Linked DNA regions of Homo sapiens. The protein of the gene in region 3 interacts with the protein of the main gene of each other region in a pairwise test. Each region holds a gene or a part of one and is shown on either strand. Other genes may lie near its edges.

Region 1 (7,729 bases), about 15 Mb from region 3:
TGCAACTTCTTCAGCAGAAAGGTAAAAGTCATCCAGGACAGAGGCTGCAAACTGAAGTGCAAGTCAAAACAGAAAGTGGAACCTGCATGATATTTGGCATGTTTGTTTTCAAGTAAATTGTCAACTGAGCTGATTATAATCGCACCCAGAGAATCATTCTGGTATTTTTACAAAGCAATGGTACTGTAAACTCACAATATTCTCTGAACAGAACAGAATTCCTTGGGGCTTGATGCCTGAGTCATTCCTCTTCCCAAAGATCCCATAGGATATGGGGACTCCAGCAGCTCCCCTGGAGTCCTGAAGCTGGCTGACTTCAGCTGGTCCCAGTGCTGTTTGGGGCTATGTTTAGCACTTGGCCTCTTCCTCCTATTCTTCTGCTTCCCTTCCTGCTCCTTTCCAAAGCCCATCATGTTTTCTTCCTCCAACTCCTCATCATCTGTTCATCCAGCCCTTCCCTCATAAAATGCTAGAATGTAAAGCTGGAAGGGTAAACTCACACTTTCATTTTACAGATAGTTGAGACTGAGCACCAAAGAGGAGGGTCACTTGCCCAGAGTCTCACAGTGACAGAGTCCAAATGAGAACTCAGGTCTCAATGCTCCTCTCTCCATCAACTTGTGTTTCATCTTCACCATTTTACTACATCCAGGTACCACCCATGCTATTAATTACTTATTGTTAATTTCAATACTTTTATTTTATTTTTTGAGACAGAGTCTCGCTCCATCGCCCAGGCTGGAGTGCAGTGGCATCATCTCAGCCCACTGCAACCTCTATCTCCTGGGTTCAAGCAATTCTCCAGCCTCAGCCTCCTGAGTAGCTGGGATTACAGGTGTGTACCACTATGCCCGGCTAATTTATGTATTTTTAGTAGAGACAGGGTTTCACCATGTTGGCCAGGCTGATCTAAAACTCCTGACCTCAAGTGATCTGACTGCCTTGGCCTCCCAAAGTGCTGGGATTACAGGCACAAGCCACCGTGCCTGGCCGGTACATTTACTTTAAATGTAAACCTCACATCATTGCCAAGAGACAAGAACCAGTATCACTTCTCATAAATAAAAGGTAACCCTAAAAATAAATTCTGGGGAAACAAAACAAGGTTATTAAAACCCAGCTGGTTGTTTGCTTGTTGAAGGCCCTCCCAGGCCTGCTCTTGATTTTTGTTTTAAAAGAAGGATTAGCAAGCCTTTGAGAGGCATTAACTCTATTCTAGCTCCAGAGACTTCCTCTTTGAAAAAATGAGAAGGATTTTTAAAAGAACTGTAAAGTAAGTGTATGTTTAATTCTATGTCCATGTGCTCCTTAAAACTGTCCCACAGTTTGGGAACAGCCAGTGAAAAGAACACAAGTTTGAGAGTCAGACAGCTTTAGACTCCAGTCCTGACTTTGTAACACTTACTAGTTATTTTGCTTCTCTTAGCCTCAGTTTCTCTATCTCTAAAATGGGAGTAATAATGCCTGCCCTGCAGGTTGGATTACGAAGATAAGAAAGAATACATGTATATGGCCTAGCACAGTGTCAGGAACATAGTAGGTGCTCATTAAATGGCAATTTTAATCATCATTCATTTGTTTCTGCTTGCATGATATATGGCAAGCAGCCCGGCTACCTGGCTGGCTGTCCAGAATCCTACCTAACTGGTGGCTCTCATTCAACCTGGGTATCTCAGCAAATTACTTACAGAAATGTGTCTTACCCAAAATGGGAAAGGAAGTAGAAAAGGCTACTGCCCCCCACCAGCTCATTGCAAGACACCATCCTGTGAACGTGGAGCTCCCACACTCCCAAAGATAGGAAAGTCCTTGATACCATCTTCAAACACATGAGAAATAAAACGCTCCCCTAAAAGTCTGTCAATCTCCAGTTCTCACTCCCCATAGTTCTGGTCCTTCTGCCACAAAACAGCTCAGGACCAGAGCTTGGAGACTCTCACTATCTGAGAGGCAGGCTCGGGAATCATGCAGATGTAGATTCACAACCAGGTTCTTCCATTAGCTAGCTATGAGACCTTTGGCAAGACAATCCCCCTTTCTGAGCCTCAATTTGCCCATCTGTATAATGGGGGAGTTGTGAGAAATCAGACAAAGAAAACAGGCAGTGTTTGGCTCAGAGCCTGACACACAAGAAGCCCTCAATAGATAGCTTCTGACATTGTTGTCACAGCCCAGCCTCTACCTGGAGCCAAAGTTGGGAGTTATGAGGGCAAACTCTGCTCTTGAGAAGCCTGGATCACACCCTTCACCCCACCTCCTCTGGCTCTTTCTCCACTCCTACCACAAGGGCCCCCCTTTACCTCTTTCCAGCTCCGCCCTCCCCCTGCCTCCCTGTTCCCTAAGAGCCATTGCTTCAGGTGAAAGTGAAAGCTGTGGGACCAAAGCAGCCTCCCCACTCCCTCTCTTCCCTTGCTGCTTCCCTTGCTTTCCTTGATACCATGGGTCATTCCTGCCCAGGCTTCAGGCAGGAATCTACAGCCCTCTAAAGTAGGGGGAGGCCAGAGGGGCTGGGATGAAGGAGCCAGGTACTTGGGGGATTCCCAGCCTCCAGAATGAGGAACTACAAAAATACATTTAAACAAAAAGTGAGTCAAGTGTAGGCTTCTGAAAATCCCGGAGATATGCTTGGTTGGCTCTGAGCCCCTCTGGTGCCTGGAGAAACCCCTGGTTTCTCCAGCCCTCTGATCACCAGCCCTGTCAGAGCCAACCAGAACTCTGGTCTCCTAACCCTTTATTGTGTCCCATAAACTGTTCATCTCCCCAGGGGTCTCCTATGTCATCTTAAATTCAGGAGAAAAAGGCAAAGCCCTGGGGATTCCTCCTAGGTTGGAACACCCAAGATACGGTTCGGGGTGGAAGGCGATGTTAAAAGCTCCTTGCCTTCTCACAAAAGTACCTGGGCCTCTGCACCCATCTCTTGTTCCCACAAGATGCCCTGGAAGAAGGCAGCCCCAGCTGGCAAGGAGATGATAACTACTTACAGAGGCTGGCATCTGTCCACAATAAGAAGGGGACAGGAAACGGGCCAGACCCGCCCCTTCCCTTGGTCCGCCTCACTTCCCGCCCTCTGAACCCCCTACCAGTCTCTGTGTGGCCAGCCTCTGAGGCTCCCTAAACCCGTCCAGGCCGTCTAGGCACGCTTGGGCAGCCAGTGCCTTCCCTGAGCGGCCCCTGTAGGCCGCTCCCGGGACCCCAGCCCGGGAGAAGAGAGAGGCAGCCCACCCCATTCAGCCAGGAGCGGGGGCACCTTGCCCAGCTCCCACCCACCCTCCTGCCCCCACAAAAATCAGCCAGGAAGGCCTCTTCCCCGAAGTCTTCCTTCCCTTTCCTTCTCATTCCCCACTCCCAACTCCCGTCTGGTCGGGGCAAAAACAACTCACAGCGGTCAGCAAGCAGCCCCAGAGGACGCACTGCAGAGGCAGACGAACCATAGCGAGGTGAGACCAGGCGGCAGGACCACTGGGCGCCCGAGCGAGGCCTCTGCTGACTCCCCTGCCCCAGCCTTGGCCCCGCCCAGGAAAGGGGCGGGGTCTTCAAAGACCAATCGCGGTCCACCTATCGGGGGGGCGGAGCCCCCAGCAATTCACCGCGCAGGAGTTTCCCCAGAACATTCCCACAAGTCTAATTCCCCCGGGAGTTTAGGGACGCATCTTGCTGTGTACGGGAGGAGGCATGGTCCCAGAGACAGCTCTTCTTCTTTGCCCCCAGGTCCCACAAAGGCCAAGCCGAGGCGGGCTAGGAGCTAGCCTGCTTCCTGCGACCGGAGAGAGATCCCATGGGTGCTGGGGCCTGCCACAGGGACCCTCACGGTTTTCCCCTCCCTGCCCCGCTCTCCGCTGCCTCTAGGTATCCTGGCAGAACCGAAAGAGGCTCCACTGCGGAGAGGCCTGAGGAAGTTCCCCCCACACCACCACGCAGAAAACGGGAAGGCCACAGCTGGGGTATGGGGAGGCGTTTCAAGGAAGAGTTTCCCAACTCAGAATTTCGCTCTCTTTCAAAGGAAATTCCCTCGTGTGGGCGCGTCGTCTCAACTTCCCATCCATTCATCCATGCATCCATGCGTCCTCACCTCATTCCATTCCATCCCACCTCCCACCCAGCACCTGGAGACAGGCATTTATTAAGAGTGGGGCCGGGCGCGGTGGCTCACGCCTGTAATCCAGCACTTTAGGAGGCCGAGGCGGGCAGATCACTTGAGGTCAGGAGTTCGAGACCAACCTGGCCAACATAGTGAAACTCCGTCTCTACTAAAAATACAAAAATTAACCGGATGTAGTGGCGTTCGCCTGTAATCCCAGCTACTCGGGAGGCTGAGGCAGGAGAATCGCTTGAACCGCAGAGGCAGAGATTGCAATGAGCCGAGATCGTGCCACTGCACTCCAGCCTCGAAGGCAGAGCAAGACTCAGTCTCAAAAAAAAAAAAAATAAATAATAAATAAAAATAAAAATAAAGGTGGGGGCCAGGCGCGGTGGCTTACGCCTGTAATCTAACACTTTGGAAGGCCAAAAAGGGAGATTGCTTGAGGCCAGGAGTTCAAGACCAGCCTGGCAACATGGCAAGACCCCCATCTCTACAAAATAAAGAAATTTTTAAGTTAGCCAGGCATGGTGGCAAACACCTGTAGTCCCAGCTACTCAGGAGGCTGAGGCAGGAGGATCGCTTGAGCTCAAGAAGTCAAGGTTGCAGTGAGCCATGATTGCAATGATTACATCACTGCACTTCAGCCTGGGCGACAGTGCAAAACTCCATCTCAAAAAAAAAAAAAGAGTGGGCCAGCCTTTTGTGGCATCATAAAACACTTTAAGTATGTTAGGAAACTCGGGACCCTCTCATTTTGCAGAAACACACACACTTGTGCCTACATTTCCTGGGTTCATGAACTCTGAAGACGTGCTTTTGTTTTTTTGTTTTTTGTTTCGTTTTGTTTTTTGGGTGTTTGTTTGGTTTTTGGTTTTTGGGTTTTTTTTGACAGAGTCTCATTCTGTTGCCCAGGCTGGAGTGCAGTGGCATGATCTCGGCTCACTGCAACCTCTGCCTCCTGGGTTCAAGCAATTCTCCTGCCTCAGCCTCCCGAGTAGCTGGGATTACAGGCTGGCGCCACCACGCCCAGCTAATTTTTGTATTTTTAGTAGAGACGGGGTTTCTCCACGTTGGCCAGGCTGGTCTCAAACTCCTGACCTCAGGTGATCCGCCTGCCTTGGCCTCCCAAAGTGCTGAGATTACAGGCATGAGCCACCGCACCTGGCCCTCAAGATGTTCTTGAACCAGTGTTAACACTCTGCTTTGCAGCATGGAACACCTGGGTTCTGGTGCAGCCTCTGCCTCTGAAGGACTGTGTTCCCTTAGGCCTAAATTTTTCTCCAAGGAAAACTTAGGAGCTTGAACTAGACAACGGTTGAGGTGATGACCCTCCAAGCTCTCAATTTCTGGAAGAGGACAAGAGGCCAGACCTCACAGATCAGGGAGGATGGAAGAGGAGGACACTTCTAACCCCATTCTCATGGCTTCTGCTGTTAAGGGCACATTTGCAAGTCTTGTGGATTCTGCCTCTAGGATCCATCCCTTATTTTCTGTCACCTCTGCCACTGCCCTAATTCAGAGGGTGCCATCTTTCATCTGGACTGTCCCAACAGCCTCTCTCATTCCACAGGATTTATTGAGCACCTACTATGTGCCAGGCAACTCTTTACACTGCTGCGATTCTCTTGATAAACTCCAGATCTGATCGACTGGGACACTTTCCTGCATAAAAGCCTCTTTGGGTTTCCCTGCACCCTCAGGATGATCCAAATTTCTTATCCTGGCAAAGCACACCCTTCCTCACTCAGCCCCAACCTCTCTTTCTATGCTTACTTCCTGCCACGTCCTCCCATGCACACTGGCTTCAGCCTCTCCCCACTTCCCAGGCACACAATCTTTTTTCCTTACGGTTTATCTCATTGCTCTTGATGTTTCCTTCCTTTCCTTCTCCTTTCTTAAACAGTTTAAATGTTGCCTCCTCTTACACCTTCCCCAACTCCCTGAGGCAGAGGTAGGTACTCTATCCCACCCTGCCTCCTCCCCTGTGTTGCCACAGCATTTAGCATGCCAGCTCATAACTCCTTCTGCCTGGTCCCATTTGACTGTGAGCTCCCTGAGGGCAGGACTGGATCTATCCCAGTCCTAGGTACATAATAGGACACCAATATATGGGTGCTGAATGAATGAATAAATGAATGAGTGGGTTCAGCAACTTCTCATCCTAAGTACAGCCTCCAATCATGACAAAGAGTTGGTGGCAGGGGGTGCGAAGCTGGTAATCTCAACACAGACCTCAAGCTGCAGTGGCCTCTTGAGAATGGTGGTCAGATACCAAAAGGCCAGAAACTCTTGAAATCAGGGTCCAGGGAACTTCATTAAAGCCACCCAAACATGCCCAGGATGGAGAGAAGATTAAAATATCTTTTCCCTTTTTAACATACTTTGAAAAAAACAAGCACGGTTTTAAATCCTTTGAGAGAGGGGTGTTACTATAATGATTTCAGCCATTACTTATTCTTTATTTGCTTGATTCCAAAATTGGGCCTTTCACAAAACTGCCTGGGGAAGCAAGTACACAGAATTAAAACATTAATTATATTATATAAAACATATCATAGCAGCAATTAAAGCAGCTTAAATTAATGTGTGAAGGAATAAATGTTAGCCTTCGGGTTGCCCCATGGGGCGAAGACCAGATAAGATAAAGGGAAGATATTTTAGTATATACATATCCTGAGGAGGCATGTGCTGGTGGGCACAGGCCCAGAGAAGGCCTAGAATCTTGTTGAGCTGAGAAGAGTGTGCTGGAGGAGGAAAGCGAGAAGATGATTTAAGGGAAAGTGGCAATATTCGGAGGCCAATCAAAAAGGGAACAATGAAGGGTTCTGCAATAGGAATGGGGCAAAGGACATTCAAAAGAGTAGGGAGCCAGGATTTTGGAAACTCAGAGATGAAATGGCCTTTGTAGGGAGGTGGGTTCACAGTGCCAGGTGAATGGGTGAGGAGCATGCCTAGAGGTCCAGTGTCCACAGCGCTGCCAGAATCTGGCATCCAGAGTGTTCTGTCTAATATGCAAATCCAATTGTGTTGCTCCAAGGTTTAAAGTGGCTCTCCAGGGCCCTCACCCCTTAAGCTTGCAGAGCTGCAAGGCCATGGGCCTCCTGGTGTACATCTCTAAGCATCCTTCCTGCCTTCCCCTTCATGCTCCAGCCCCACTCCCCAGATGTCCCGTGCTGTCACCTCTGCCTGGAGAGCTCCCTTCCCACTGCCACTCTCCTTTCACCTGGCCAACTCTTTCTCACCCTTCAAGGTCCATCTCAGGCAACCCTCCTCTGGAAATCTCTCTCTAACAACCAACCTATCCCCCTGTGCTCTCTCAGAACCTGGGGCAGCTTTACCCAAGCAAGACTCTAGCCCGACCACACTGTATTTCAATTTTTCTGTTTACTTGTGGAGCCAGTGTATTGAGGCGATTCAACTCTGTGGGGTATAATGATGAAGATTTTCTCCCCTAATCTCTGCCTTCAGCCATGCTGTGTTGAATCTCCCTTTTCCATCCCTTAATGACATTTTGGGCAGATTGCATTACTTTTGGATCACTTTCTGTTGTTAAACCTCCATCCTTTAGACCTTTATTCTCAAACTCAATTTAAATCTCATTTTATCTTCTCTCTTACTCATTCAAGAGTTAACTTGAGCCAGGACCCT
Region 2 (8,236 bases), on a different chromosome or scaffold from region 3:
GTGCCCTTACAAAAGGGGCCCACCAAAGCTGCCTTGTTCCTTCTACTATGTGAGGACACATCTAGAAGTTACCATCAATGAACCAGAAAGTGGGCCCTTACCAGGCACCAAATCTGCCAGCACTCTGATCTTGGACTTCCAGCCTCCTGAACTGTGAGAAATAAATTTCTGTTGTTTATAAGTTACCCATTTTATGGTATTTTGTTACAGGCACATGAACTAAGACAAGTGGATTAAAAACAACACAAATTATTATTTTACTGTCTAGAAATGAGAGGTTCAAAATGGCTAAAGTCAGGGTGCCACTGATAGGGCTGCATTTCTTTTGGAGGCTCTAGGGAAGAAGCCGTTTCCTTGCCTTTTTCAGCTTCCAGAGGCCACCTGCATTCCTTAGCTTATGGTCCCTTGCTACAGCTTTAAAGCCAGCAGCACAGCACCTTCAAATCTCTCTCTGACAGTGACATTCCTGCCTTCCCCTAATAAAGACCCATGTGATTAGATTAGGCCCACCTGGATTATCCAAAATAATCCCTCTGTCTTTAGACCCTTAACCATATGTGCAAAATGTCTTTTGTCATGTAAAATAACATCCTTACCTCAAGGTTTTGGGAATTAGCTTATTAATGTCTTTAGGGGGTCATTATTCTGCTTTCCACATACATTTAAAATTAACTATCAGGCTACAAAAGTCATATATGAATTGAGCTTGTTTTGCCCCAAAGGCTGTGTTCTTTTTTTATTTTTTTTATTTTTATTTTTTGAGATGGACTCTCACTGTTGCCCAGGCAGGAGTGCAGTGGCACAATCTCGGCTCACTGCAACCTCCGCCTCCTGGGTTCAAGTGATTCTCCAGCCTCAGCCTCCCAAGTAGTTGGGATTACAGGTGCGCACCACCACGCCCAGCTAGTTTTTGTATTTTTAGTAGAGACAAGGTTTTGCCATGTTGGCCAGGCTGGTCTCCAACTCCGGACCTGAGGTGATCCACCTGCCTCGGCCTCCCAAAGTGCTGGGATTATAGGTGTGAGCCACCACACCCTGCCAGCTGTGTTCTTTTACATCATAATACACTGCCTTTTATATCCCTCACTTATTCAATATCATTACCATCCATCATGCTGTCACAAACACAAAAACCCAAGAAAAGTGGGATACAGGTCATTGAGAATAAATAATTTTTATAAACTTTTGTTCTTTCTTGTAACTTTTTATCAGTCAGCTATTCCAATGAAGCAAAATCTGATAATATATTGCTTTTATACTACTTAGTTGAGACACTCACATCTATTGAAGAGTAATGGGCACTTTGAAGGGGCTTTTTTCTTTCCTTTTATATCCGGTCAATTAGTCATTAATTTCTGCCTTCTAATATAGACTCAACTAAAAAATTATATTTTGAAAAAAATTTATTTTCTAAATGAAATTAAAATTACTCTGTATGTGTACTTCTTTTCCTCACACTGGAATTCTCTAAGGACAGTGTAAATGCACATCACTGTATCTTATGTGTGGTATCTTATGTGTGGTATCAGCTATTTAACACAAGGTTGCATAAGAAAGTAAGCACGACGATATGGCTTAGAAGTCATGAGATTCACATAGTTTAATATAAAGCTCTTGTGATAATTGGAGAGTTATTTTGTCACATTTCTCCTTTCATAATTTATGCTCCAGCTCTCTCAGATTTCAGGTGTTTTCCCAACTCTGAGATATATTCTCTTCTCTCTGGGCCTAACTAAAGAAACTAGAAGACTTTCTTCAACTGGAAGACTTCTTCCTCCACCTCAAATGCCTCACTTTATTTTTTTTAATTAATTAATTTATTTATTTATTTATTGTTTTGAGACGGAGTCTCGCTGTTTCGCCCAGGCTGGACTGCAATGGCACTATCTCGGCTCACTGCAAGCTCTGCCTCCTGGGTTCATGCCATTCTCCTGCCTCAGCCTCCCGAATAGCTGGGACCACAGGCGCCTGCCACCGTGCCCGGCTAATTTTTTGTATTTTTAGTAGAGACAGGGTTTCACTGTGTTAGCCAGGATGTATGTATTTATTTATTTTGAGACAGAGTCTCATTCTGTCGCCCACGTGGTGCAACCTTGGCTCACTGCAACCTCTGCCTCTAGGATTCAAGCAATTCTCCTGCCTCAGCCTCCCAAGTAGCTAGGACTACAGGTGCAAGCCACCATGCCCAGCTAATTTTTGTATTTTTAGTAGAGATAGGATTTCACCATGTTGGTCAGGCTGATCTTGAACTCCTGACCTCAGGTGATCCACCCGCCTTGGCCTCCCAAAGTGCTGGGATTGCAGGTATAAGCCACCATGCCTGGCCTAAATGCCTCACTTTATTTAACTAACTCCAGCTCATTTGATTGGTACTTTCTTGGGAAAACTTCTTCTGGGTTAAGTGCCCTCATTAACTGCTCTCCTAATAAATTATTCTACTGCCATTCACATCTTGTTACAATAAGTCATGTATACCTACTTATTTTTCAGTTTCATATTAACTTCCTTAAAGAAAGGGACATTACCCTCAAAGTCCACCTGGCGTGCTGGCTGAAAGATGTTAAGTTTGAAAATATTTGTTAAAGGGTAAATGATTATGTACATCTTTAGGACTTCATGAACTTACTTTCAGTTTAGTTTCCACATAAGGAGAAACTTACAGCAACGTAGAAACCAAGAGATTGATATGAATAAATGATGTGACTAACTCACAAATACCATGTCATTTGATATTTGACCTTTAAAGTAGTTTTCATATCAGATCTGTCAGTCATGGGTTCTATAGCTTACTGTGAACTTAGACATATTAGTTAGTCCCTCACCCAAAATCATCTGAAAAATAAAGGTAATATCAGCCTCATTAGTTAGTTATGCCAATTAAATAAGAACACATATTTAAATCTCATATTAATGTGTATGGAGCATAGTAAGCAGTAATAACCTGGCATGTTGTCATGCCAGGCTAGTAACAGTAAAAGTAATAGTAGTTTCACTGGAAGGTCCAAGATTAGTGTGGAAATTCCAAGATGATTAGTGTGGAAATTCCAAGATAAGTGTGGAAATCTCAATTTATCAGGGTTTACCTTTTGTCCCCTTTAAGCTAACAATGAAATTATAAAAGGATATAAAAGGGATAAGCCTGACAGTTCATATCCACTTCTGTGTATGATAATATAACTGGAGAGACATCAAACTCATGCTGAGAACAACTAGAAGAGTTAGAATTGAAGAAAAAGGATTTCATTAAGATATTAGAGAGTGTTCAAGGCAACTGGAGGCAGAACGAAGATTCTGGAAAGGGGCCACAGAGAAGTGAGTCAGCATTCCAGGAGCCACCCTTCTCTTAGGGGCATCTTGGCAGTGGGTCAGATGCTGAGATTCTGGGGAGAGGGCTGTGGATACCAGGCATTTTTTTGGGGGAGAGAAAAATCTCTTCCTAAAGCACTTGAAGGACCAAAACCCCCAGAGAGGAGAGAGGGCCAAAGAAATGAGAAAAATTTTTCTCTCAAGCAATTTTCAAATTATTAAATTTCACAGGAAAGGAGGTTAGGAAGAACTATGTGAAAAACAGACTTGAACTTTTGGCAATCACATGTTGTTCAGGAGACAAAACCAAATTCAACTTCCAAGAAAGAGAAGCAGCTTTGATAAAAAGCAGGTTCTCAGATGGAATTACTAGAAGGCTTTATCATAGGTCCTAGGACAAACTAGAAATGATGAAATAGTAAAGAAAAAGATATATAAAATCTTACAGAAACTGGAACTCAGTCCTAATGCAACTTCATTTCTATTTGATAAAGGCAATAGCTGTCCAATCTGGAACTTATTTCTTACAGGTAAGGGGGGCTACTGTATAGAATTCAAAAGCAGGGAAAATATGTTGTCAGAGTTAAGATAGAGATTGTATTTGGGGTAATGAGCGTTGCAGGACATGAGTAGGGCACATAGCGTGTTGGTATTGTTTTACGTGGTTTTAAGATATACTTCATCTAGGCACTTGTTACATGTTATATTTTTAATGAATGTGTTTAGTTGTATGCTTATGATTTGTGCACATTACTATAAATTATATTTTAGTAAAAGGTGCCCTTACTGGCATTTATATACAAGAAATCAACACATCTGACAAGAAGCTCTTGCTGCTAAAGAGCCTCTGTGCTCCTGGATCATGCCAGAGGGAGCACAGAAGCTGCACACCGTTCAAGCCCATTTTTGAAAAGTTGTTGTAGCAGCCATAGCAGCAAATTCCCAAAATATCTTGAAGAAATTGAAAACAAGATATTTTTTGAATGAGCGTAAACTCTTGGGAATGAATTTTAATTTGAGATTAAAATTGCTGTTGTCTTTACTTACCTAACATTCATTTCCTCTGAGAGCCAACTCCTTCCTTTCAATAAATTCTTATTTTCTATCATAATATTGCTTTGTACCGCACAAAATACAATTATAATTTTTAATAGTCAAAGAAATTTTAAGTTATCAAACATTAGTTTCTTTCGTAACCAAAATACTGTTAGAGAAGTAGCTTCAACTTTTTAAAATTCTTACAAACACCAGTTTATTCTGTTGTGATGAGCTGATTTTTGAAACAATTTATGCTTCATTTGTTCCTCTAGCTATATTTAACTTAAAGGCTTGACATTTTGAGTTACTGGGGCGGTTACACACTTACACGTTTTAGTCGTTGGGCTTTTTTTTTGTTTTGTTTTGAATCATTCTTGGGGTTGAAAACGTAGAGACTGTGGTTTAGATCACTCATAGAAACTGGAGGCAAAATGCATGACAGTAACAATGTGGAGAAAGACATTACACCATCTGAATTGCCTGCAAACCCAGGTAAGAAGCTGGGCTCTACAGAGTAAGTGTGAGGACTGGAATGGGAAGGTAGTGGTAGTGATGGGCTCACACAGGAAAGGTGCTGATCTAGTAAAAAGTTTTCAAGGATAAGAGATGGAATGTGGGAGTCCATAAATTGGCTTATAATTTGTGTAAAACATGCATATATTTATATTCCCAGTTCTAACAACTAAGGAGAGGGAACAATGAGAGAAAGATGTAAGACAATGAGATAAGGTTAAGTTTAGGATTGAAAATAACAGTTAATTTCACTAAAAAAAAATCTATACAAACTCTAAAGTGTTACTCAGATACAAGATACCATCATTATTACATAGGTAGAAAACCTATCATGGAAGCTCTTAAGAGAGAAAAGGTAGAAAATAGTATGTAAAGGACATTTACAAATCAAAAAAGTAACAAAGGTTGAGTAGAAACTTAGTAGGGCATTCTAATGGAATTATGTTACATTGGATGCACTGGAAATATATATATATATAGCTTTATATGATGCTTTAGTAAGTGAAAAAAATGACTTTTGCCACAGTTAGGGAATATCAAGGTTTTATAACTTAGGACTTAAAAGTTTGGAGTTTTCTCCTCCCAACTTAAAAGGTAATCAATTTGGAGAAAAGGTAATTCAGAGGCAGAAAAAGATGAACTCTAAATGTTGTTAAATGACTTCATTTATTTCTTCATTCATTGGGTATTTTGAGCATTTTATACCAAATGCTTTAAACTGTTTGTCGGATAGTTCCAACATCTCTGTCATGTCCTCCTTGGCTTGTGTTTTCTTTCCCCATGGAAGTTGACATTTTCGTGGTTCTTCATATACTGTGTAATTTTGGATTGTAATTTGAACATTTTGAACAAATATTTAGTTAGACTGGATCTTATTTAAATTTTGGAGTATATTGATACTATTGTTTTAGCAAGCAATCACCCTGGTGAGATGAAGACAATCTGTGGGATCTGGTTCCAATGTCAGTTCCATTCTGAAAGCCTTTGTAGTGCTATTCAGACATGTGCATCAACCAGGGGTGAAATTGGGAACTGTGCAATGCTCTACTCATTAGTTCAGGTCTTAGCATCTTTAGTGTGCCAATTAGAACCATATCTAGGCATGCATAAGTTGAGGGGCAGGTGAATCCAGGAGTTTATGAATAATGTTCATGGGTCTCTTTCTAAAGTTTCTTCCTCTTCACCATCTGACCCGTACTTTCAGGTTCCCAGGGGCTTCTCCTTTCCATCCTCCAGCTAGAAATGCGGGCCTCCTTTTATTCTGATGAACCATATACTTCTGCAATTATAGCTGCATCTTTAAGCTCATGTGGCAGACGGACAGTGAGAAAGAAGAAAAAAAAAGCAAGAGGTTTGGCCCCACTCTCATGGAGCTACAGCTCAACTGAATGGAAAGGATTGACTTTAGATTTCTTTTCTTTTTTTGAGGTGGAGTCTCACTCTGTCCCCCAGGCTGGAGTGCAGTGGCGCGATCTCGGCTCACTGCAAGCCCCGCCTCCTGGGTTCACGCCATTCTGCCTCAGCCTCCTGAGTAGCTGGGACTACAGGCGCCCGCCACCACGCCCGGCTACTTTTTTGTATTTTTAGTAGAGACGGGGTTTCACCGTGTTAGCCAGGATGGTCTCGATCTCCTGACTTTGTGATCCGCCCGCCTCGGCCTCCCAAACTGCTGGGATTACAGGCGTGAGCCACCGCGCCCGGCCGAGGATTAACCTTTCTCAAGGTTTTGGCTATTGCATGTTGCTGTAGTTTCCCCTACCATCATCAGATTGCCTGAGGTTTGAGGCACATGAGAATGTAGACAAGAGGGGGAGAAAAAATAAACGTGGTATTTTCACACTCTATTTGAGATAGGAGTTTGCTTTTCTGTTCCTCAGACCATACCTCTAGTGCTTCTCCTGGAGCCCTCTCTTTATGCTGACAGAGGCTCAATTCCATGTTTCTGGCTGTATTAAGTTCGGGGCAGTGATACTAGAGGAGGGAAATTTAAATTCACCACTGGTTTGATGGCTCTTTAAATTTGGATATTCTTGTAAGATCTGCTGCTAGTATATCCTTTTTCCTTTTGCTCTTTTTTGTTTTGTTTAAAGACCATATTTTTAGAGCCATTTTGGGATCACAGCAAAATTGTGAGAAAGGTAGTTTTTTTTTTCATTTTCTCCTTGTTGCCACACATATATAGACTCTGTCTTAGTCTGTTTTGTGCTGCTATTACAGAATACCCAAGACTGGGTAATTTATAATGAACAAAATCTATTGGCTCATAGTTCTGGAGGCTGGAAAGTTCAAGACTGAGAAACACATCTTGCTCCATCATCCCATGGCAAAATTTGGAAGGGCAAGAGAGCACATGCATAAGAAAGAGAGAGAGCAAGAGGCACCAAACTTGCTTTTATAACAAATCCACTTTCGTGATAGTAAACCCACTCCCATTATAAGGACATTATGACCTGATTACCTCTTAAAGGACCTGCCTCTCAACACTATTGCATTGGGGATTAAGTATCTAACACATGAACTTTGGAGACACATTCAAACCATAGCAGTCTCTAACATCAACATTCTTCACCAGCAGTACATTTATTACAATTAATAACCTACATTGGCATATTGTAGCACTCAAAATTCATAATCTGATGGACTTCCCTTTGTCAGTGACCTGACCTTTCTCCCTGGCTGCCCTTAATATTTTTTCTTCCATTTCGACCTTGGAGTATGTGTCTTGGGGTTGATCTACTCATGAAGTATCTTATTGGGGTTCTCTGGATTTCCTGAATTTGAATATTGGCCTGTCTTGCTAGGTTGGGGAAGTTCTCCTGGATTATATCCTGAAGTGTGTTTTCCAACTTGGTTCCATCCTCCCTGTCTCTTTCAGGTACTCCAGTCAGTGGTAGGTTCGGTCTTTTTACATAGTCCCATAGTTCTTGGAAGTTTTGTTCATTTCTTTTCATTCTTTTTTCTCTAATCTTGTCTGTCTGCCTTATTTCAGCAAGAGAGTCTTCAAGCTCTGATATTTTCTCTTCTGCTTGGTCAATTCAGCTATTGATACTTGTGTTTGCAACATGATGTTCTCGTGCTGTGTTTTTCAGCTCCATCAGGTCATTTATGTTCCTCTCTGAACTGGTTATTCTGGTTAACAGCTCCTGTAATCTTTTATCATGCTTCTTAGCTTCTTTGCATTGGGTTAGAACATAATGCTTTAGCTCAGCGAAATTCGTTATTACCAACTTTCTGAAGCCTACTTCTGTCAGTTTATCCATCTCAGCTTCAGCCTTGTTCTGTGCCCTCACAGGAGAACTGTTGCGATCATTTGGAGGAGAAGAGGCACTCTGGCTTTTGGAATTTTCACCGTTTTTTCATTGTTTTTTCCTCATCTTCG
Region 3 (7,171 bases):
GGTGGACACTCCAGAACTGTAGATGTATATAGTTCAGCTGTGGGAAGTCCTTTTTAGCTCACGAAGCAATCAAGGCATTTTGTTTCACAGTTTTTTGTGACAGATAGGAAAAGGGTCTTTTATGAGAGTCTTCTCTACTGCTGAAAACTACTATTAATTCCGATAAATCATGCACATAATGGATTCAGGTCATCCCTTTATTAGGCAGCCTTATTCTGCTTATCAGTGTTCACAAGAGCAAACTTGCAGGGCTATGATGGAGTTCTTTAAAGAAGGGAAGTAGATCTCAAAACCATTCAGTGTAGATGAAACTCTGTGCCACTGGGGGTTCCTTGGATGCATAAAGAAAGTACCTTCTAGACTAAGACTTCTGCAAGGATGGTGCTCCCATGAGTTGCTCTCTTTCTCTCTCTCTCTCTCTCTCTCTCTCTCTCTCATTTTTCAAGGCTCTCAGCCCAGTATCCTACCCTTCTAACCAGAAACAATCCCCTTTCTCAAGAGTGGAGGAAGTTGTGCCGTTTGCTTGAATGGCATCTCAGGTTTCCTCTCTGCAGTCCCTTCTGGAAGGAGAGGAAATGGGTTCCAGTCCACGGGGCTGATACCTTACTAATGATCTTTAGAAGTAAGCCCCTTGTCAATATAGCACTTTATTTTAGTCCTCTGTTGCAGAGGGTTATGTATTTATGGCAGATTTATTGTCATTGGCCTTATACAAAGCCCTTCTCTTATTTTATTTTACTGATTTATTAACTTTTATCCCCATAATCAACTCCTATCCATCTCTCACATAGGCAACTCCTATGATGTTTAACTCCTATGATGTATCTTGTCACCCAGGTAGTGAGCATAGTATATAATAGGTAGTTTTTCAGCCCTTGCCTCCCTCCCTCTCTCCTGACTCTAGTAGTCCCCAGTGTCTATGGTTCCCCTCTTTATGTTCACATGTACCCAAGGTTTGTCTCCAACTTGTAAGTGAGGACATGTGGTATTTGGTTTTCTGTTTCTGCATCAGTTGGCTTAGGATAATGACCTCCAGCTGCATCCATGTTGCTGCAAAGGATGTGATTTCCTTCTTTTTGATGGCTGCATAGTATTCCATGGTATATGTGTACCACATTAAATGTGTATATATTTTAAGTGGTTTTATGTTATTTATCGGATTCTGTTGCTTATTTTAAAAACTATTTGCACAGGTTTTTTTTAAAGTCAACTTTTTTGAGGTATAATTTATATAAAACATAATGTGTAAATTTTGATGAATTTTGACATCTGCATATAGAACATTTTCATCACTCTGAAAGTTCCCTCATGCCCCATCTCAGTCAATGCCCACTTCCTCCCATCAGCCCCAGGCAACCACTGATCTGTTTTTTGTCACTGTAGATTAGGTTTGTGTTTTCTAGAGTTTCATGTGAATAAGCTTGTTCAGTATGTTCTTCTTTGGTCTGGATTTTTCCACTCAGGCTAATGCTTTTAAAAAATGTTTATTATTATTTTTATTATTATTCTTTTGAGACAGTGTTTCGCTCTTGTTGTCCAGGCTGGAGTGCAGTGGCATGATCTTGGCTCAGGTTCACTGCAACCTCCGCCTCCCGGGTTCAAGCAATTCTCCTGCCTCAGCCTACCAAGTAGCTGGGATTACAGGCACCCGCCACCATGTCTGGCTAATTTTGTTATTTTTGGTAGAGACAGGGTTTCACCATGTTGGCCAGGCTAGTCTCGAACTCCTGACCTCAGATGATCCACCCACCTTGGCCTCTCAAAGTGCTGGGATTACAGGCGTGAACCACCACACCCAGCTTGCTCTTTAGGTTCATCCGTATGTTGCATAGCAGTGGTTAATTCTTTGTTGCTGAATAGTATTCTATTACATGGAGATATCAGAATTTATCTGTTTACTAATTAATGGACTTTTGGGTTGTTTTCACTTATGGTGAATAAAGTTACTATGACAATTCAAGTTTTGACGTGGACATATGTCTTCATTTATCTTTGATAAATACCAAAGAGAGGAGTTGTTTGGTTGTATGATAAGTTTATGTTTAACTTTATAAGAAACTGTTAAACTGTTTTTCCAAAGTGGAGATACCAAGAAAATCAGCAATAATTTTGTTTATTTTATTTTTTTAACAAGTTTTTTTAAAATAGAGAAGGGACCTTGCTATGTCATCCAGGCTGGTCTCAAACTCCTGGCCTCAAGTGATCTGTTTGCCTTGGTACATTTTTTTTTTTTGAGATGTAGTTTCACTCCTGTTGTTCAGGCTGGAGTGCAATGGCACCATCTCGGCTCACTGCAACCTCTGCCTCCCAGGTTCAAACAATTCTCCTGCCTCAACCTCCCGAGTAGCTGGGGTTACAGTTGCTCACCACCCCACATGGCTAATTTTTGTATTTTTAGTAGAGACGAGGTTTCACCATGTTGGCCAGGCTGGTCTCGAATTCCTGGCTTCAGGTGATTCACCTGTCTCAGTCTCCCAAAGTGCTGGAATTACAGGCGTGAGCCACCATGCCCAGCCAGTACATTTTTAAATCGTTGAAAACAATCAAATTTCATTTAGAGATGTGAAAATTATACAAAATTTAAACTTGAGTGTCTATAAATAAGTTTTATTGGAATACAGCCACACTCATTTGCTTATATATTGTCTGTGGGTAATTTTGTCCTATAGCTGTAGAGTTGAGTAGTTGTGATAGTTGTGGCTGGCAAATCCTAAAGTATTTACCATCTGGGCTTTATAGAAAAAGTGACCTCCGGAGCATTAATTTTTCTTCAGACAACAAGAAAATTTATCTTGTCTTTTTTTTGTTTTTGGAGACAGGGTCTCTGTTGAGCTGGCTGGAGTGCAGTGGTGCAATTTTAGCTCATTGTAGCTTCGACCTCCTGGGCTCAAATGATTTTCCTGCCTCAGCCTCCCTAGTAGGTAGGACTACAGCTTTGCCCCACCATGCCCGGCTATTTAAAACTTTTTTTGTGTGTGTGTAGAGATGGAGTCTCGTTATGTTGCTGAGGCTGGTTTCAAACTCTTGGCTTCAAGCAATCCTCCTGCCTTAGCCTCCCGAATTGTGGGGATTACAGGCAGGAGCCTCTGCTCCTGGCTTGTTGTTTTCTTCCATGTTAGAAAGAAGATATTCCTCTTATTAGTATGTCTTTATTTCTGTCCATTTTGAAATGATAGACCTAGGCCAGGTGCAGTGGCTCACGCCTGTAATCCCAGCACTTTGGGAGGCTGAGGCGGGTGGATCACCTGAGGTCAGGAGTTTGAGACAAGCCATGGCCAACATGGTGAAACCTCGTCTCTACCAAAAATACAAAAATTAGCTGGGTGTGGTGGCGCGTGCCTGTAGTCCTAGCTACTCGGGGGGCTAAGGCAGGAGAACTGCTTGAACCCGGGGGGCAGAGGTTGCAATGAGCTGAGATGGTGCCACGGCACTCCAGCCTGGGCAACAGAGCAAGACTCTGTCTTAAAGAAAAAAGAAAAAGAAAAGAAAGATAGACCTTACCATTATTGTCCTAAAAAGCACTTGGCTCTTTCCTGATCTATCTGCTGGCCTTGTGTATAAGTTAGCCATTACTATGTAATGTTCCACTCCAAAACTCAGTGGCTTAAAACATCAATCCTTTATATTTGGCTAGATTGCCCTGCTTGAGGCTGGAATGCCTGGGGCAGCTCTGTTTCTCACTGTAGATCTGTGAGTCGCCTGGAGTAGCTGTGCCCCACGTATCTCTCATCCTCCTTGGACCACTGGGGCATGTTCTTCTCATAGTGATGGCAGAGACACAGAAGGGCAAATGAAAATATTCATCATCTCTTAAAACCTAGGCTTACAACCGGCACACCGTCACTTCTGCCCACATATCACTAGCCAAAGCAAATCACATGCCAAGGCCAAAGTGAAGGGAAAATGAAATAGAGTTCTCCTAGGATGAGACCTTGGCAAATGTGTGAATTCAAGTAGGGATGAAGAAGTAGGGCCAAGATTACAATCTACCATTTCTTTCTTTCTTTTTTGAGACAGAGTCTCGCTCTGTTGCCCAGGCTGGAGTGCAGTGGCACAATCTCGGCTCACTGCAACCTCCGCCTCCCGGATTCAAGCTAGTCTCCTGCTTCAGCCTCCTGAATAGCTGGGACTACAGTGGCCAGCCACCACGCCCGGCTAATTTTTTGTATTTTTTTTTGTAGAGACGGGGTTTCACTGAGTTAGCCAGGATGGTCTCGATCTCCTGAACTTGTGATCCGCCTGCCTCGGCCTCCCAAGTTGCTGGGGCAATCTACCATTTCTTATAAGAAAGACCAAGCTGGGCATGATGGCTCATGCCTTTAATCCTAGCACTTTGGGAGGCCAAAGCAGGAGAATTGCTTGAGACCAGGAATTCGAGGTTCCAGTGAGCTATGATTGTGCCACTGCACTCCAGCCTGGGTGACAGAACAAGACTGTCTCAAAAAAATAAGTAATAATAAAAAAAAGACCACAACAATAATAAATGGCTTTTCTTTTGCTACCTATGAGGGTGCTACTTGTTCCTATTAAATATGTACTGTTAAAAGTAAGGGCTATGGCTTTCCTGCTCATTCCACTCCATGAATACTGACATTCTGGTTTCCAGTGGTGATGGCCATGGAGCTATTAAGGTATTTTCCCCTGCTCTGCCCTTCATTTGGTATTATAATGAATCATCAACATATGGGACATCCTAAGATGTCCTTGTTGCTGGGAAGAACCCAAGGCGCAGAGAAGTATCACTCCTTTTCTGTCTTATCTCTTTTTCTCTCTCTTTTTTTCTCATTAATGAAAAACAAATTAGAGATGAAAATATTTTTCCCCTTCTTGGTTCTCCAGCTGTATTATAAAATTCTTCAGAGGCAAGGCCGTATCTTCTCTTTGTTAACGTCCCTTCCCCCTCTCCCAGCCTCCTCAGGCAGTGTGGTTGATACCTTCCTTGCCTGCCTGTCTGATCTCAAATGACTGTTCCCGTTCTGGTTCACTGATCTTGGCTCTGCCATGCTCCTCAAGGCAATAAATACCAGTCTGGACTGCCCAGAATGGAGTCCTCTGTCTGTTTTACCAGTTGAGAAGCCTCCTATCCCTCCCTGATCATTCATCATTCATGAAGCTCCTTCTTCTGCTTTTGACTGTTACTCTGCTCCTGGCCCAGGTCACCCCAGGTAAACAGGATCTCCAGAAGGGGATGGGAGTCAGGAAACCTGATGCATGTTCAGAGAACTCTGGGGACTCTGACAGGTTGGGCTGGGAGAATGGCCTGGTAGAGCTCATTGAGGCCTTTAGGTAGTCTCTCTAGTTATGGGGAAGTTTGAGTTCTCTGGTACCAAATGGTCTTCCCAGTGCCCAGTACTTGACCATTCCAACCTTATCTCTGGTTAGCTCTGGAAAAGCTGAACGTGATGACCTGAGGATGGGATAGGGTGTAAAGAGAGAGACTTGGGTATGGAGTATAGAGAAAATGGGGACTTTTTCAAAAACATTCATTGAAAGGATTTGAATTTTGATGCATTGTTGCCTCTAGGAAAATGGTTCTCAAATTTCTGATTGTTTGAGGATTCTGATTCCACTTTTTAATGCAACCTCAAATCATCTGGGTTACCTTAGGTTGTAGGTTCCCTGGAATAGCTGTTCCTAATTCCCTTGACTGGTTGGGGCCAGAGAAAAGTCCCAGGATGTTGTGAAGAAGGCAGTATGATATTCTTGGGAGTTTTAAAGGTGCCCTAGAAGACTTACAGATGTTAAATGAGTTTATTTAATATTCCTGTCACCTTTCATTGATATGGTCAGAGGGGGTACCAAAGAACAATGAGAAAAGGTGGCTAATTGCTACTGGGCACCTGGGTACATTATAATATGGGGGAGATAAAACCCTTGGGAGAGGGGTCCTCTTCCCCCTCCCAAGGAGCTGGCCAAGGAGGGGAAGCTATCCAGTAGGTCCTATGCCACTGAGTTGGGGGGACTCTGGGGGTTCTAACAGGGGGCACAAGTGAAGGAAGAAAGCGTAGTGGTCTATAATCTCCCTTAAACTTAGGGGATCCTGTGTAAGAGCTTCTTCCCCACAGACCTCCTCATTTCCCTCCTACTCCTCTACTGGGCTTTAGCCTCTTCCTTTCACACCTTTCTGCTTTCTTTCAAAACTGACTCTATTCTCTTCTTCCCTTTTGTTTTCAGTCATGAAATGTTGGGGCAAGTCAGGCAGGTGCAGAACAACATGTAAAGAAAGTGAAGTATACTATATATTATGCAAAACTGAGGCTAAGTGCTGTGTGGATCCCAAGTATGTACCTGTAAAACCAAAATTAACAGACACAAATACAAGCCTGGAATCAACTTCTGCAGTCTGACACCTCTCTTCCAACCTTGAGTCTCAACATCATGGGATCCTGCAGTTCTATTAAATCATTCTTGGCAACACCCTGTTTCTGTCTGATAGTTCCACCTAGTTACATTTAGAAACAAGTAAATAAAGAAGAAAGGTTGTGTGCGTGTGTGTGTGTGTGTGTGTGTGTGTGTCCGGTGTGCATGTTAGGAAGAACAGGATGGACCAGTAGGTGGTAACAATCTAAACCTTGCAAATAGCTCCTAGCCTGCTGACCCATAGCTGGTCCAAGAGGGCATGAATTAAAGAATATTCATTATATCTACTTGATTCCTGTTTTCTTCTAGACCAGCACTGCCAATAGAACATTCTGCCATGATGGAAATATTTCCTGTCTATGTTGTTCAATATGGTAGCTACTAGCCACATGTGGCTACTGAGCACTTGAAATGTGCCCAGTGTGAATGCGGACCCGAAGTTTTAATTTGATTCAATCGAGCTTTAAATTTATATAGCTAAATGTGGCTAGTGGTGATTGTATTGTATAGCAATGGCTTTAGAGTCTAGGCTGAGGCATGCTGTGGGTCTCAATCTATGAGTATTTTAGGGGAGTCCAGGAGGCAAGTATGATGAACACAAGAACCCATTCTTGGCCCATGGCCTCTTTCTACTCCCACACCAAAGGTTATAACTTTCCCTTGATCACACCTGCAGTTCTGCCCCTCAGGGGCTCTAGGGCAATGCCTCTTGTGAGTCTTCCTCATGGTGGACAGTGCTGGCATCAGGCCATCTGTGGATCCTTGCTCCATCTCTTTCCATTCCCTCTAGTTGTGGCCATGGGACATTAAA

What was found.
Region 1: the proteins of DEFB121 (region 3) and CD40 interact in binary tests that used the Homo sapiens proteins (3 or more experiments, as listed by UniProt).
Region 2: the proteins of DEFB121 (region 3) and CLEC2D interact in binary tests that used the Homo sapiens proteins (3 or more experiments, as listed by UniProt).

What each region holds. Positions count from the first base shown.
Region 1 is NC_000020.11:46,114,046-46,121,774, reverse strand, and holds the start of CD40 (tumor necrosis factor receptor superfamily member 5 isoform 1 precursor), read right to left. Parts: upstream 3,462-7,729; 5' UTR 3,432-3,461; coding exon 3,381-3,431; intron 1-3,380.
Region 2 is NC_000012.12:9,664,960-9,673,195, forward strand, and holds the start of CLEC2D (C-type lectin domain family 2 member D), read left to right. Parts: upstream 1-4,753; 5' UTR 4,754-4,775; coding exon 4,776-4,836; intron 4,837-8,236. UniProt on the Homo sapiens protein: Receptor for KLRB1 that protects target cells against natural killer cell-mediated lysis. Inhibits osteoclast formation. Inhibits bone resorption. Modulates the release of interferon-gamma. Binds high molecular weight sulfated glycosaminoglycans.
Region 3 is NC_000020.11:31,404,089-31,411,259, reverse strand, and holds DEFB121 (beta-defensin 121 isoform 1 precursor), read left to right. Parts: upstream 1-5,044; 5' UTR 5,045-5,107; coding exon 5,108-5,165; intron 5,166-6,174; coding exon 6,175-6,347; 3' UTR 6,348-6,415; downstream 6,416-7,171. UniProt on the Homo sapiens protein: Has antibacterial activity.